Regions from separate parts of the Homo sapiens genome. Here region 2 is linked to region 1. A link means that fine-mapping ties the variant in region 1 to the expression of a gene that starts in the linked region. Tissue or cell type: B cells. Region 1 holds a variant in brackets; the other region holds the start of a gene. All regions are shown on one strand. Distances are from middle to middle.

The links. PIP is the estimated chance that this variant, and not a neighbour inherited with it, causes the effect.
Region 2: it holds the start of DNAJC15, and the variant in region 1 is fine-mapped to the expression of DNAJC15 in B cells (Schmiedel 2018, PIP 0.95).

What each region holds. Positions count from the first base shown.
Region 1 is chr13:43,642,252-43,650,395 of GRCh38, forward strand. All of the region lies in intron 2 of ENOX1 (ecto-NOX disulfide-thiol exchanger 1), which reads right to left. Among named protein-coding and RNA genes, the nearest start is that of ENOX1, 140 kb to the right of the region's middle. The variant G/A (reference allele first, on the strand shown) is at 3,984.
Region 2 is chr13:43,019,411-43,027,554 of GRCh38, forward strand. It overlaps DNAJC15 (DnaJ heat shock protein family (Hsp40) member C15), which reads left to right and starts at 4,176. Exons shown (of 6, transcript NM_013238.3): 1 at 4,176-4,324. The coding sequence starts at 4,217. RefSeq lists enhancers at 3,995-4,054, 4,065-4,114, 4,625-4,674.

The DNA.
Region 1 (8,144 bases):
TTTTATCTGTCTCTCTTTATGGTCTGCTTGCTTTGAGTATCTCAAAATTCAGCCATATCAAGAAAGAAAGCTGGGAGCTGGAAGCTGAGAAAAATACTACCCACACTGAGTTGGTCATTGGTAATAAATAAATTAACCAATAAGGTGAAGAATAGGAAGAGTTTAAACAAGAAAGTTTCCAACATGTTATGCTTTAACTAACTGTGAGTTGAAGTAATTATTGGGAAAAAAGGACAGTATTTTTAGAAAAGCAATTAAATTTAGCTGATAGGTGTCACTGACACTAAGGTCATTTCAACAAAAAGGATTTTCAAAGTAACAGAAGCAGAACTTAGGGCAGAAGCACCCAAGAGATGGCTTCAACAGAATCAAAGACCAATTTGCCCCAATGTTCAAGGAGAGGAAAGTATAGACTTCATTTCCCTCAAGATCCCACTGGGATTGGATTCCTTTACTTAATTAACTACTCATCCATGATACTATCTAAAAAATGCTGATCCTACAGCTTTGTGTAGACAACGTGCTATAGCCTCAACTACTCTATTTAATGGAATATCAATTTTCCTGCCTAATAGAGCTCAGAATTTGAACTTCCTTCACGTAAGCTGATATTCTCTTTCCTCATTTATACTACAGCTATGTTTGTACTGAAAGGCATGAAATATTAATATTTGTGTCCATGATCATACAGTCCAATGTAAGGAAAAATACAAGTGGAAAACTAAGAGGAAGAAACAGTCATTTCACTGTCTTTCAAAGTAAAACAATTACAATTATGTAGGAAAAATATTACTTGTAAAAATTAACTCAAAACATTTTTTATTTATAAAGAAAAATTGTTATTGATTTACATGTTTACAACTGTCCTGTCGCACAAATGTGCAAGCTCCCCTACTGTATCATAAGGTTCTTGAGGGCAGGGGTTAGATTCAGAAACTTCACCTCTTACATTGGATGCCAAGGACCGAGGGTAGGTACATAGTGTTTGTGTTCCCCCACCGTCTACCTCCTGGCTGTGAATGAACTAAGAAGACAGACTAATGATCGTGATCAGTTTAGTCATGACAGATCCAGCACAGCACCCTGGCCATTCATGACAGATGCCTATTTAGTATGAGCTGGACAACAGGGAAGTAACATCAGTGTTATCCAGTTATCTCTATGAACCACCAATTGAAACTAGATTTGATATATCTTCCCAATTGTTTAGTTTGATTTCTTCCTTTGGAATAGCTACTATTTTAAAAGTTTAGGCATATGGCAATACTTAGCAAGAAGTAAATATTTAACCCAATCTCCACTAAGTAAAGCCCTTAACATTTTATATATAATCTGAAGACATCCTGTATGTATGTGCATGTATATGTATGTATGTGTGTGTGTATATATATATATATACACACACATATATATATACATGCACATACATATAAATATCCATATATACATAAATATATATCAATATAAGCTGGCACTGTGATATAGTGCTATTTTCTACATAGTAGCAGCAAATCAAGATTACATACCAAGAGAAGGCATTTATCTTCCATCATGTGTTAATGCTGAAACACATTAACTTTCCTCTCCTCATCTCCCTACCTCTTCAGTCATGTCTACCTTTACATGCAAAATACAGTAGCTGCTTATTTTAAGGAGTACATAATTTCACTAAATATTATTCTGCTCATTGTGCTTTCTCATTCCATTCCTATCGCAAAGCTTTTAAGTTGTTTGTCAAGTCTAAAATCTCTCCTACTTTTCACTGGAGAGATTAATTTGGTAAAAATAGAATCCCAAACTGCCATTGCTCTTTTAGTCATCTTAATTAATTGTAATTAGTTTTAAAATATTCAGTTCCCGATTTCCCATAAAACTGAGGGCATCACACACACATGTGAGTTATCATTATTTCTTAGTACCAGCACTTGTGATAGAAAGGTAACCATCCATTCTTTCCTGTGGTCTTTCATACTTTCAACCCTGATTAGTATGTGAGTGGCTGGTAAATAATTAATTTTATAGTGAGTGACATATTTTGAAATCTGCAAAGTATTTTATTCTGGGAATTTAAGGCAACCCTTGCATTTCCCTAGATAGCTCTGTGTACGCCTACAATTATAAGTTGAAGCAGATTCTTGACTTTCCCATTAGCATCTAACAATTTATGAGCTTTTGATATCCATGGGATGATTTTTAAATGACGACTTTAATTCCCCAATGCATCTAGATAACTAGAAAAATAATAGACAATAAGTGAATGCTTTAGCGAAGGAATTTAACTAAGAATTTAAAGCTTCACCCAAGCTGAAAGTAATCAAATAAACTTTATAATGGTCCTGCACTGACTTCAATATTCTCTTTACATTTTTAAAGGAAGGTAGCAGCTTCAAATAACTTATTTCATGTGGACTGCATAACTATCCTATTATGTAGTAATCATTATATACAATTTACAGATAAGAAAGCTGAGGCTCATCTATTTTAGTTAAATTGCAGAATTAGGAATTGGCAGAGTTGGAGTTCAATCCAGATCCAGCTGCCTTTAAAGCCATATTCACAGTACTACACCAACCCAGGCAGAACATGGATCCTTGCTCTTCCAACATTTACAGTACCTTTCAGGTCTTATACCAAGTTTAAGCCTAAAAAACATATCTGGGTTTTGGTTATCTCATAGATTATACGAGTTACTTGGGTTCAATTTGTCACTGACCACACACTGGGTAGGCAGTGATAGGTCTGTAATATTAACCATAACTAAAGATAACATATTTTGGAAATTAATTAATTTAAAAATCAAATATAAAGAAACATGTATCAAATAATAGTTTTCCCATTAAGAATTTGGCTAAAAAATCATGATGGAAATCAAAGAAAAATGTGTGTTTTTCTTAGCCAAAATATTTATTTATTTATATCTTTAGAGAAGGGTTTCACTCTGTGCCCAGGCTAGACTAGCACGGTGGCATAATCATCGCTCATGGCAGTCTCTAATACCTGAGGCTCAAGTGATCCTCCCATCTCAAACTCCTTCTGAGTAGCTAGAACTACAGGTGCATGCCACGATGTCCAGTTAATTTTTTTTTTAAGAGAGGTAAGTTCTCACTATATTGCCCAGCACAGCCTAGAATTCTTGGCCTCAACTGATCCTGCCACCAGAGCCTACCAAAGTGCTGGGATTACAGGCATGAGCCACTGTGCTCGGCCACAGAAGTCTTTAATAAGATTCAATTGGCATCATCCATTGTCAAAGTACAAAATGTATACTTTCATTTACTACTGTAACTAAAGGTGATTAAAGAGACAACCAATCATATGCCCTTTGCACATTCTATGTAAACAATCTTTCATTACAATATCAATTAATCACCAATTCATTGGAAGTTCTGAACTCCATGGAAATTGAGTATTTAAGCAACAAGTTTGGTTGAATCCCTATTCCAAATTATTTAGTAGAACTCAGTAAGTGAAAAGAATTAGAAAATAGTTCTTCTCAGAATTCAGATTATATAAATTCACTTGTAAAATTTTACATATTTAAAAAACACCTTTTATGGTCATTATTTTAGCTAATTATGCACTAGTTTCTATTGGGTGACAATTCTCTACCCTGTGGTACCTTTTGTCTCAGACTACTATTCAAGGATGTCTGTAAAGCAAACAGCCTGGGAGGATAAAGATTATGTCTTCCTCCTCCAGGACAGAGGATAATTTTGTTTCCTGGCAAGAGTCAAAGATAATGCCTTCCTCCAGGGCAAAGGCTGGGCAAGTGTGCCAGAAACAGTTTATAAGACTGGTTATTTCCTAAACTCTGTGTTCCTCAGTTGTGACACAGATCCAACAGGTATGAAGTAACCACCTGGCCCCCTCTGCATTGCCCTCAAGGGAGGTTCCCCTCAAGCTCTACAAGATGAGAGCTTGTAGCCCATGCTGCCTGCTGTGCATTGAGCAGTAACATCCTTTATGTCTGATCCAGGAGTTTC[G/A]TGTCTTCTGCGAGCATGTATGAATCAGGCAGGCTAACTTGTTACTTCACAGGCAGGTTAAAATCTCAGACTCCTCACTGCTCTTGACAGCTCTATATGATTGATTAAATAAGTGTTTGCAGATGTTGGCTAACTCCAAGGTAAATTTTTACTCCTCCCTCTAAAGCCCAGAACTCACAGCTGTCACTTGTGCTCACGCAGTTAGGGCAAAACTAAGGAATACCATCTTCATACATGAAATTCTTGGGACTGCCTGACGACTCTGCAGCTACTGAAATGAAGGAAGTGAAGACAAGCGCAGGAGTCTTTTCCTTCTGGTGGCCACTGTTGGGTTATTAGAATCGTCATCTGTACACCAAAGACAAGCTATCCTTCTCATGCGCTGATTGATTACATGCTGTCACAGGCTAACCTGTAAATCCCTGTCATCAATCACCCTCTCTCACAGAGGATATGGGAAGATTTCATGTCTCAATCATGCTCTCCAGTTTACCCCAGGGTGACAAAAGCCAGATAGAGTCTTGGGGCACTGAGGTGATCATACTCACTTTCCCTTCTCGCCTCATCATTTAGATGGATACAACACTAGATAGTAACGGGCAACGTTTACAGAGCACGTCTCAATAATCGTTTTATCCTTCTCCCACACTAGAGATGCAGACAAGCAAAATTTCTATTTTCTCTTCACAGAGGCTCAATGAATTGAAGTGGCTTGATCCAGGCCCAGATCTGGTAACCAAGGAAGCAGAAGCTTCTTACCATTCCATGTTCTCTCTACTTCACAAAACCAAGGAGGCCAATAGATGGTCTCAGCACCCATTCTGGCCCTCTCAGAGGCGTCTTTGGCTACTCTCTAATGGACCTTGTAAGGGGCAGGGAAGTGCAGTGGTTAGGGAACACAGTCAAGAGCTAGATTGCCTGAGATTTTAAATCCTGTCTCATTCACTCATTAGCCAGTCACTCCTGGCTCAGTCACTTAGGCAATTTATTTAACCTTTGTGTGCCTTAGTGTCATCATGTGTAAAATGGGGATAATAATAGTGCTTCTATTGTAGGATTATTATAAAGATTGAATAAAATAAATAAACTACTGTATCTGACACCACCATTGCTACCACTACAACTGCTTTGAGTCCCTTTTAGACACACTGATCCCTTTCTGGTTAGAAGCCCAATTTCTGATTGTCAGGCTTGGTTAGGAATTCAGGTGAACTTCCCCAGGGTCTCCATATCCAACCCTGCAAAACAGCAATCTAGGCTCACTCTGCCATCAGGAACCAAATTATCAAGAAGAATGTGACAAGTTCCACAAATATTTCTTGTGGAATGAATAAATGACTTAGGAAGACTCTCTGTTCTGCAATATACATTCTGGAAGAGAAATGAGGCTTTGGGCTTGACTATCCCTATACCCCCTTTGTGAATAAATCCATGTGACAGGCAGAATGATGACTACCACCAAACCCCCAAAGATGTCCAGCGTCTATTTCCTGGAACCCATGAATATGTTACCTTATATGGCAAAATAGATTTTGCAGATGTGATTATGATTAATGGCCTGGAGATGGGAGATTATCCTGTATTTTCCAAGTAAACTCAATCTAATCACATCAGTCCTTAAAAACGAAGAACCTTTTTCAGCTGTAGAGAACCAGACAGATGGCAGAATGAGAAGGTCTCGACCCACCATTGCTGGCTTTGAAGACAGAAAGGCATCACAACCAAGGAATGTGTGTGACCTGTAGAAAATGGAAAAGGCAAGAGCATGGATCTCCCCCAAAGTCTTCAGCCATGCTGACACTTTGATTTGAGCCCAGTGAGAACTGTGTTGGACTTCCGACCTGCAGAACTGTTAAGACTATACATCTGTGTTGTTCAAGCCACTGGGTTTGTGGTAATTTATTAGGGCAACAATAGAATCTCTGGATTCTTCCACTAGGGAAAGATCATAACCCAGTACTGGGACTATTCTGTAGGGTTAAGCAACAGGAAAGCATGTATTTACTCACCAATTCATTCATTGATTCATCTTTTTTATTCATATTGAGCACCTACCACAGCCCAGACACTGTTCTTTGGGCTACAGAAAACAACAGTGAACCAGAGAGCCATGGTCAGCTTCTGCAACCACGCAGCTTACAACTCAAAGCTGACAGATAGAGATTAAGCAGCCAATTAATAAATTAGATAACTGCAAACAGTAGAAAGTGCTGTGAAGAAAATAAAATAAGATGATGAGATAGAGAACACAGAGGGCAGAGCTGGGGAAACAGAAACCCCAGATTTGGGTGGATGGAAGGCTAAGAAATGACATTTGCCAGCTAAGCAAAGGTCCAAGAGAGTTCATAAGCCACTAACTCGTGGCTGACCTAGCCTTCTTATGGATGCTGTAAGAGGTGAAATACCTGTTTTTGAGAAATTGATATGACTTCTCACTCCAAGGAAAAGTGTGCTGTGTGAATTGCTACTCTAATTTTCCTGTCTCCACTCTTCACAAGCATGACTTTTAAGGCTTTATTTTTACCATATTTTATGAACAGTGTAAAGGCAGCATTATCCCAGAGTCCCTGCATATCATTTTCAGTGAGAGTACTCAGCGTTCTCCTTATCTGAATATGGATGTGGTTAGACTCCCTGTGACGGCTACATTGCTGTTACTGTGATAGATTTCCCTGTGCTGGCTGCAACCTGTATCAGCGACACTGGCTCTGAAACCAAATGCATTGCTCAGGGTTAGACCCAGACACAGTGCTAGAGCCTACGCAGACCACAGCTGTCTCTACTGCACATTTAGTTATGACAAAAATGTCAAAGCGTGAAGGTGGCAAATAAAGTGTCATATCATGTAGGAATGATGGTCTCTGATATCCAAATCATACACACACAAAACAGGCCACTCAATTCATTTATTGTAATGTCTTGCTCTAATATCTATGGGAAAATAGTACAAACAACTTCAATTTTTATTCAGGTTGTCATAGTGTCAATAATTACATCTCATAATTACCCCTTTCATAGGTTGTCTATAAAAGTAAAACTAGAACATCCAAGTAATCTGTCTCAACCCAGAGTTCCCAGACACACGCAAACAATGCAGGGCAACGCAAATTACCTTCACACCCTGGTTAGTTTGTTCTACAGATGCCTTACTGTGTGAGAAGGGGCTAAGCTGAGGCATAAAATGAATCCAATTCTGAAGCTACTCTAACCATTTCTAGTGTTGTATATGTTAATATAATGAACTTACAAATAAACAATATCTAGTAAGATGGCTTTTGTGTTGGGGGTGAGAGGTGCAGAGTTCACACTTTGATAATTCACTGATTCCAAGAATGGTGCTCAGGTTTTAGAGCCAGAGTATCTAGATTTGATTTCCAACTTCATCATATAATAACTCTATGACCTTGAAGAAGACATTTCCCTGACATAGCATCAATCCATTTTTTCTCTATGAATTGAGGTCAAAAGTAGCACACACACTGCCTGGTTCAGAGGGTTCTCACAAAATGAGAAAGACTTTGTAAACTATAGAACACAAGTGCAAACCAAAAGTCCCTTGGCCTCCTAGCGCTACAGATATGTTGTATTTAAGGCAACAGCCTAAGTCCCAATCCTCTGAGCTCCAAGCATGGACTAACAAGTCTGAGCTTTTCCTGGGATCCCCTCCTCAGTTACTCCCTCCAGGATTCCCTGACAGTCAGACTTATGGCCTGCTACCTGACAACCCTCCTCTCCTACTCTCTTGAACTTTTCCTCTGCTCCACATGCCTTCATCACTCTGCCATCCACCAGTCACCATCAACACCTCTGACAACGTTCTCACGGAAGACAACTTCTTCTACAGCACAAAGAATGGGGTGAAGAGGGAAGGGAAGGAACCTCAAGGCCTCACCATCAGGGAAGCCATTTCCACTCTTGAGCCTTGCTTTTTCAAAACAGGGCTGCCAAAGTAACACCGTTAGGTATCACTGACCAGTTCTTGGCAGGGGCTGGCAAATTTTACCAATAAAGGGCCAGATAGTAAATATTTTAGCTTTTGAAGACCACATCTGTCTCTGTAGCATATTCTTCTTTGCTTTTTTTTCTTTTTATGACCCTTTAAAAATGCATAAACAATCCAGCAGGCCACAGGCTGGATTTTCCTCAAGGGCCATAGTTCAC
Region 2 (8,144 bases), 620 kb before region 1:
AAGAGGTAACATAAAGAAAATAGTAACTAACAATTTTGTAGAAGTTACTAAGTATCAAGCACTGTTCTAGGAGCTTTTCAAAAGTGAACTCATTTAATCCCTACAAGAGAGGTGCTATTATTATCACCTACTTTACTAATGAGGAAACTGAGGCACAGAGAGGTCAATTGTCTTTGTTAAAATTCCTTTCAAACAATAAATTTTTAGAACATTTTCCACTGAGATGTTTCGAAGACATACTACCAATGCAATCTGCCTTTCTTTTACAAAGTCTATTGAACATAATGTAATCTGTCTTTGAAGTGGCGTAACTAATAAAAGTAGGCCAATGAAAATTTAATGTGGCCTCCCTTTTGGGTTTCACAAAAATATTTTTCTTTGTTCTCAAGAAGCTAGAAAATTGAGTTTAACTAAATCAGGAAGAGATCCTTGTGGGGGAGAGGAAAGGACTTCATGGCCCTTTTTTCCATCCTTTCTTTGCTGAGGAGGGTGAATTTACCAAAGAACCAAAGGCTGGGAACTAAGTAATCTTTGTGGATGAGATTTTTCTTTAAAATTGGCTACATCTGCAAGAGCGGATGCCTGAGGCAGCAGTGGAATGAGGTCAGTCGAGTCTACAAGCAGCCAGCTATCTGATCTCAATAGTTTGGGGTCTGAGCTGACATGCAACCCTGCTGAGTCCACCTCACCTCCACCTTGCTATATTCTCCCCTTCCCACTTCTTCTATTCCCCCTTTTCCTGGCTTCTGCTCTGAAAGCTTCTCTCCAGTTCCTGAGCAGGGGCAGTAGCTGCCCTAACAGGAGCTGAAGCTAAGCTGGGTCTTGCTCTAATTGTTCATTTGTTTCAGGCCAGCAGCCTGTTACTGCTAGGGCTCAGCCACTAGAATACTCCAAACTCCAAGGAATCAGAGACCTTATTTGTATGTTTGACTGTATAGGTCCAATGCCTAGCATAGTTCTTCATATCTAACAGATACTCAATAAGTATTTACTGAATAAATAAATGAATGGAAGAATGACCTGTAGGCCTTGATCCAATTCATTTGCTTAGTTTACTAGTGTCCTTCATAGTCGTGGATCCGTTTAACAAAAATTAATTTCTGTAATGAGATTATTTCTGTGAAGAGTCCTGGAATATTTTTTACCCAGTCCTATAAATCAGTGTTTTTCATTTCCTTCCATTTGTTTCCAGTTGAAATTTCTGGCATTTCCTCTCTTCCATCTAAAGAAATGTTACCCATTCTTTACCTCATCTCAATGGCTAAGCCTTCACTAAACCTCTCTGATGACCCCTGTTAAAAGTGGCCATTCCCTCCTGTAAAGTCCAAGAGCACTATGGTTGTAATTCTTTTCATAAGTGCATTATACAAGTTGCTTCCATATCCTGTCGTTTTCTTTTTTATCCCTATGTAAATGAAAAGTTCTCTGAAAAGGAATTTAGAGGAGAGAGACTATCCCAATAAACAGTTTGCAAACCTGAGAGCCACAGATTTCAGTGTAAAAGGAAGGTTTGGCTCTATTTTAAGTTAGTCCTAGTTAGCCACTTGGGATCCATCTTGAAGGATTGGTTCTTTGAGGTTTATATTTGTTTGCACAACTTCCCTGAGTCAGAATGTTGGACAAATGTTATTCTCCTTTTACAGGTAATTTGGAGAGGTTAATGGATATGTTCAGTTATACAAGCCCAGAAAATAATGGAGGTACACTAGAACTCAGATGTCTTCCTTATTCCTGTAACCACCCAATGGGTTTACTTTGCTGGCTGTCTAGACAGAGCCAAATTTATAAAGACGGGGTAATTGCAATAGAGAAAGAGTAATTCATGCAGAGCTGACTGTGCAGGAGACTGGAGTTTCATTATTACTCAAATCAGTCTCCCAGAGCATTCAGGGATCAGAATTTTTTATTTATTTATTTATTATTATTATTTTTTTGAGACGGAGTCTCACTCTGTCCTCAGGCTGGAGTGCAGTGGCGCGATCTCTGCTCACTGCAACCTCTGCCTCCCAGGTTCAAGCGATTCTCCTGCCTCAGCCTCCCGAGTAGCTGGGACTACAGGCACCCACCACGCCCAGCTAATTTTTGTATTTTTAGTAGAGATGGGATTTCACCATGTTGGCCAGGATGGTCTCACTCTCTTGACCTCATGATGCACCCACCTTCGGCCTCCCAAAGTGCTGGGATTACAGGCATGAGCCACCGCGCCCAGCTGGGGATCAGAATTTTTAAGGACAACTCGGTGAGTAGGGGGAAGCCAGTGAGCTGGGAGTGCTGATTGGTCAGGTCAAAGATGAAATCACAGGGAGTCCAAGTTGTCTTGCGTTATCAGTTCCTGGGTGGGGGCCACGAGATCAGATGAGCCAGTTTATCGATCTGGGTGATGCCAGCTGATTCATCAAGTGCGGGGTCTGCAAAATATCTCAAGCACTGGTGGTAGTTTTTACAATAGTGATGTTAGCTCCAGCAGCAATTTGGGGAGGGTCAGAATCTTGTAGCCTCCAGCTGCATGACTCCTAAGTCATAATTTCTGATCTTGTGGCTAATTTGTTAGTCCTACAAAGGCAGTCTAGTCCCCAGGCAAGAAGGAGGTTTGTTTTGGGAAAGGGCTTTTATCATCTTTGTTTCAAACTATAAACTATGAATTACATTCCTCCCAAAGTTAGTTTGGCCTACGGCCAGGAATGTACAAGACAGCTTGGAGGTTAGAAGCAAGATGGTGTTGATTAGGTCAGATCTCTTTCTCAGTTGTAATTTTGCAATGGCGGTTTAATTCCCAGTCCAGTTCTCTTTATACTGCTATGCAATGCATGTGCTCATGTTCTGGTATGTACTATTATTCTGTGTCAGTGTTATCTTCCCTACAAGATTGTAAATTTCTAGGACCTAACTTCTTAGACATGCTAATAATATTAACTAAGTGAACAAATTAATAGACCCTCAAAACTTTAAATTCAGGAATAGAAAAAAAATAAAGCTTTTTCTTCCTGTCAGCTGATTTTGCAAAGGGTATAAGGAGCCAAAGAGCTGCCACGTTGGTACAGAAGTTGGAAAACACCATACGCTTCAACTGCTGGTTAATTTTTGCTCTAAAAACTTGATGGAGGCCAGGCGCGGTGACTCACGCCTGTAATCTCAGCACTTTGGGAGGCTGAAGCGGGCGGATCACCTGAGGTCAGGAGTTTGAGACCAGCCTGGCCAACATGGTGAAACCTCGTCTCTACTAAAAATACACAAATTAGCCAGGTGTGGTGGCACGTGCCTTTAATCCCAGGTACTCGGGAGGCAGAGGGTGCAGTGAGCCAGAGATTGCGCCACTGCACTCAGCCTGGGCAACAGAGCGAGACTCCATCTCAAAAAAAAAAAAAAGCTTAATAATAAAATGGGCTTTTATATATACAAATCAGCACAAACTCATTTGAGGGAGAGTAAGATTTACCTACTTGCTCACAACTTTTTTTCCCCTGCCTCAGGCTCCTGAGTAGCTGGGATTACAGGGACGCACCACCACACCCAGCTAATCTTTGTATTTTTAGTAGAGACGAGGTTTCACCATGTCGGCCAAGCTGGTGTGATCCACCCGCCTCGGTCTCCCAAAGTGCTGGGATTACAGCGTGAGCCACCGCACCCGGCCACAACTTTCTTCTGTGTAATTTCACCTTAAATACAGCCATTTACTTGGGGGTGGAGTAAGCAAATTGCCTCTTTAATTTCTCTCCCGGGGTGGTAGAACTGTGGCATTAAACAGAAGTGCGAACAGAAGTTGAGAGTGGGAAGAAAGGCTGCCCGGAAGGGGGTCAGGAAAGCTCAGGCAAGCCCACCCTCAGGCACTACAGCTAGACTCCGAGCTTACTGGGCAGTCATCTGATTCGACCAACATCAGTTCGCAGGGCTTAAGCCCAGTCCCTTACGGCGGCCTGGGGAGGGACCAGGCCCAAGTATATAAAGCTCCCTGAGGGTCCGCGTTGGCTTTGCGCCTGTGAGTGTGATTCAAGAACGTCCCAGTGCCCTTGGCTCCTTTCGGAGTGTGACCCCGTGCTTGCACGGGACACGTTACCCAGCTCGGGTGAGAAGGGTATCTTCCGGGAACCTCGCCTTTAATAGCACAACGAGCGCAGAGTCCACTGGATCTGCGAGAAGAAACCGCGCTAACTAGTTTGTCCCTACGGCCGCCTCGTAGTCACTGCCGCGGCGCCTTGAGTCTCCGGGCCGCCTTGCCATGGCTGCCCGTGGTGTCATCGCTCCAGTTGGCGAGAGTTTGCGCTACGCTGAGTACTTGCAGCCCTCGGCCAAACGGCCAGACGCCGACGTCGACCAGCAGAGACTGGTGAGTCCTGCCAGCGGCCCCCACCCCTCTCTGGCTCCCTTGTAGTTTCTGCTTCAGCCCCCTCTACCGCCTCACCCTTGAACCTTTGTACTCCCCCGCATTCGCTCACGGTCTGTGCCCTAGCGCTCACTTGTTCAGTGGAGAGACCGCTTTGTGCTGGGCTTTGACGCCTGGGCGTGGAAGACGGAGCAGTTCTGAGGATCTGTCTCCTCAAGGAGCTTCCAGTCTTGTCTGGGACACAAACCAGAAAACAGGCAATTGCAAATACAGTAAAATAAGTGCTGTATGTGGATTTTCCTATCTCATAGGAGGCCCTAAAAACGTCTTGCAGGGGACGTGGTGGGATCAGGGACGCTTCTTGGAGAAAGCTGTAGTTAAAAATTAAGATCTGAATGAATAAAAACAGTCCATTCAGCAAGGAGAAGGGGAAAAAGTGTTTCGGGTACCAGGACTACTGTCTCCAAAGTCTCCGGCACAGAAACAGGGCCCAGTTGGAAACTCCAAGTGGTGTATTCAGGATGAACTGTAGAGCTGGAAAAAGGAAGGGTCTAACAGAAAACTGTCCAACAGAAGCATATTGTGAGCCACATACGTATTTTTACGTTTTTTTTTTTTTTTTTTTTTTTTGAGACGGAGTCTCGCTCTGTCGCCCAGGCTGGAGTGCAGTGGCGCGATCTCGGCTCACTGCAAGCTCCGCCTCCCGGTTTCAGGCCATTCTCCTGCCTCAGCCTCCCAAGTAGCTGGGACTACAGGCGCCTGCCACCACTCCCGGCTAATTTTTTGTATTTTTAGTAGAGACGGGGGTTTCACCGTGTTAGCCAGGATGGTCTCGATCTGCTTACCTCGTGATCCGCCCGCCTCGGCCTCCCAAAGTGCTGGGATTACAGGCGTGAGCCACCGCGTCCGGCATATTTTTAAGTTTTTTGTAGCCATATTAAACAACTGAAGAGAAACAGGTGGGTTTGATTTTAACCATGTATTTTCTTTAACCTGATATATGCACAGTTGCATGGTAATTTTCAACATTCAATATGAAATATTGCCCAAGTGGTGGTTTAGGCTTGTAATCCCAGCGCTTTAGGAAGCCCAGGCAGGAGGATCACTTGAGGCCATGAGTTTGGAGGACAGCCTGGGCAACACAGGAGACCCCATCTCTGCTAAAAAAAAAAAAAAAAAATTAGCTGGGTGTGGTGGTGTGAGCCTGTAGTCCTAGCTGCTTGGGAGGCTGGGTCGGGAGAATCACTTGAGCCCAGGAGTTGAGGTTATAGTGAGCTATGATTTCGCCACTGCACTCCAGCCTGAGAGACAGAGCTAGACCCTGTCTCCAACAAAGAAAAAAAAATGAGGCAGTAGAGATTTAGAAAGTTTTAAGTAACTGGTCCAGGATCATCCCTGGTAAGTGGCAGATCTACGATTCCAAATGCTACACTTTTTCCCTTATGACTTGCTGACTCCTTAGAAATAAGGATTTCTGGATATAGTATTCAGTGTATGATACAGCTGAACAAGATCAGGCAGAAGTAATCCTTTTGTGGAGAGTCGTAAAAATCCGAGTATCAGGCTTTCAAGGTAGTTGGGAGCTGTGGTAATTGGAAGATAGAACTAATATTGGTGACTTTTACATGTGTAGGTATTTTTACTTGGAAGAGGAGAGAGTTTACAGAATCCAGAGTACCACATAGGAAGCATCTTTAGTAGTCCAGGTACTTGAAGGCTAAAGTGTAGGCCAGTGATTCTCAAACTGTCTGTGTCCTGTAATATCCTGAAATCCTGAAGTCAGATTCATAGACAATAAAATCTACCTGTAAACATAACTTTTAATAATCAATATAATGCTTTAATTGAGACATAAAGGTGAAATATTTTATTAGACAATAACATGTCTACAGGCTGCGAGCGGTGTCTCGCTCCTATAATCCCAGCAATTTGGGAGGCTGAGGTGGGTGGATCACTTGAGTCAGGGGTTCGAGACCAGCCTGGCCAACAGGGCAAAACCGTGTCTCTACTAAAAATACAAAAATTAGCTGGGCATGGTAGCACAAGTCTGTAATTCCAGCTAGTAGGGAGGCTGAGGCAGAAGAATTGCTTGAACCCAGGGGGCAGAGGTTGCAGTGAGCGGAGATCATGCCACTGCACTCCAGCCTGGGCGACAGAGCGAGACTTTGTCTCAAAAAAAAGAAAATAACATGTTAACATGTCTACAATTTAAATATGTAAATACTTAGACATTACTACATTAGAAAACATAATGAAGTAATTATTAGTTGCTGTCATATTACACCAATTTGTAGAATCACTGTGTATGTGACAGCTACCAATGCAAATTGTTTATCAAATGTATTATATTGGCTTTTCAAGTAGCAGAAGGACCATTGTTCTTTACAAACTTATTTCTCCTAAATGGTGAACAATTTCTGGTAAAAACTTGAACAAAACAGTGGAATCTCCCTCAATTTACATGGCACTTGCACTTATGGAAGATTCAGTCTGTACTAAAACAGTGTAATAATGATATATTTATATATAATGAAGTTCTGGACTAAGATTATCATAAACTTTTCACCTACTTAATCTTTTAAAATTGAGGGATGCAAACAGTTTTTTGTTACACAGGCTTGTCTCATATATTTTAGGACTTCTACGATCAATGGTCCCCCATCCACCAAATACCCTCCCTTCTATTCAAATTATTGTGCAACCAAACAGGGCCTCACGTACTTTCAGAATGTCCCTAAGGGGTTGTTCTGCTTCTTTTGGGAGTTGTTGGTCCAGGCAATGACCAATAATGAGGCAGAAGATTGTTGATAATAACTTTAGGGAACTTGGAAGTACTGAAAGCAATGAGAAGCTGACAAAAGGTAAATATTAGGAAAGAAAAAAAAATGGCCTAGGTGTAGGGCATATTTGGAAATCTTATGGAAAATAGAAAATAATGTTTGTCAATGAGTTAAAGAAAAACTTTCACACTGTATTTTAAAAATGTAATTCATTTTAAGGTTTATGAAATATATCTTGTTGGGCTGGACATGGTGGCTCATGCCTGTAATTCTAGCAATTTGGAAGGTCAGGTGGGAGAATTACTTGAGCCCAGGGGTTCAAGACCCAGGGTGGGCAACATAGTGAGACCCCTGTCTTTCTAAAAGAAAAATCAAAAAGAAATAAATATATCTTGTCATATTTGTTAAATAACTTTTTCTTAGGTAAGCTTCTCTTTTGAAACTAAGAACTAATGTTCATTAGCCTGCTTAGGAGATTAAAATAATTTTTAAAAATAGGCAAAATATGTAGCATCTTGAATAAAGTTAGCATTTTACAATTAATGGTTTAATAGAAGTCATAATCAAACTTTGCACTAGCAAAGCTGTTTCTCATGGAAAAGTAGAAAAGAAACTTTAAGAGATTATTATCAAATTTTAAAGCAGTTTGAACAAAACTCAGTTTGTATGAAACGGTAGTCATTTAGTTTCCATTACTTTCCTGAAAACTGTAACTCTTACTTTTATTTTTCTTCAATTTTTATTTTAAGTTCCGGGGTACATGTGCTAGATGTGCAGGTTTGTTACACAGGTAAATGTGTGCCGTGGTGGTTTGCTGCACAGATTGTCTCATCACCTAGGTATTAAGCCCAGCATGCATTAGCTATTCTTCCTGATGCTCTCCCTCCTCCCACCCCCACAACTCTTGTTATTATTAGGATAGTGTAACATGTAAAAAAAACTAGACACATATATGTTTCATTATAAACAATCCTGATACGTGAAAACTAAAACCTGTCAAACTAATTTTCAGGCATTTATTCATTTCCAAAAATAAGACAGTA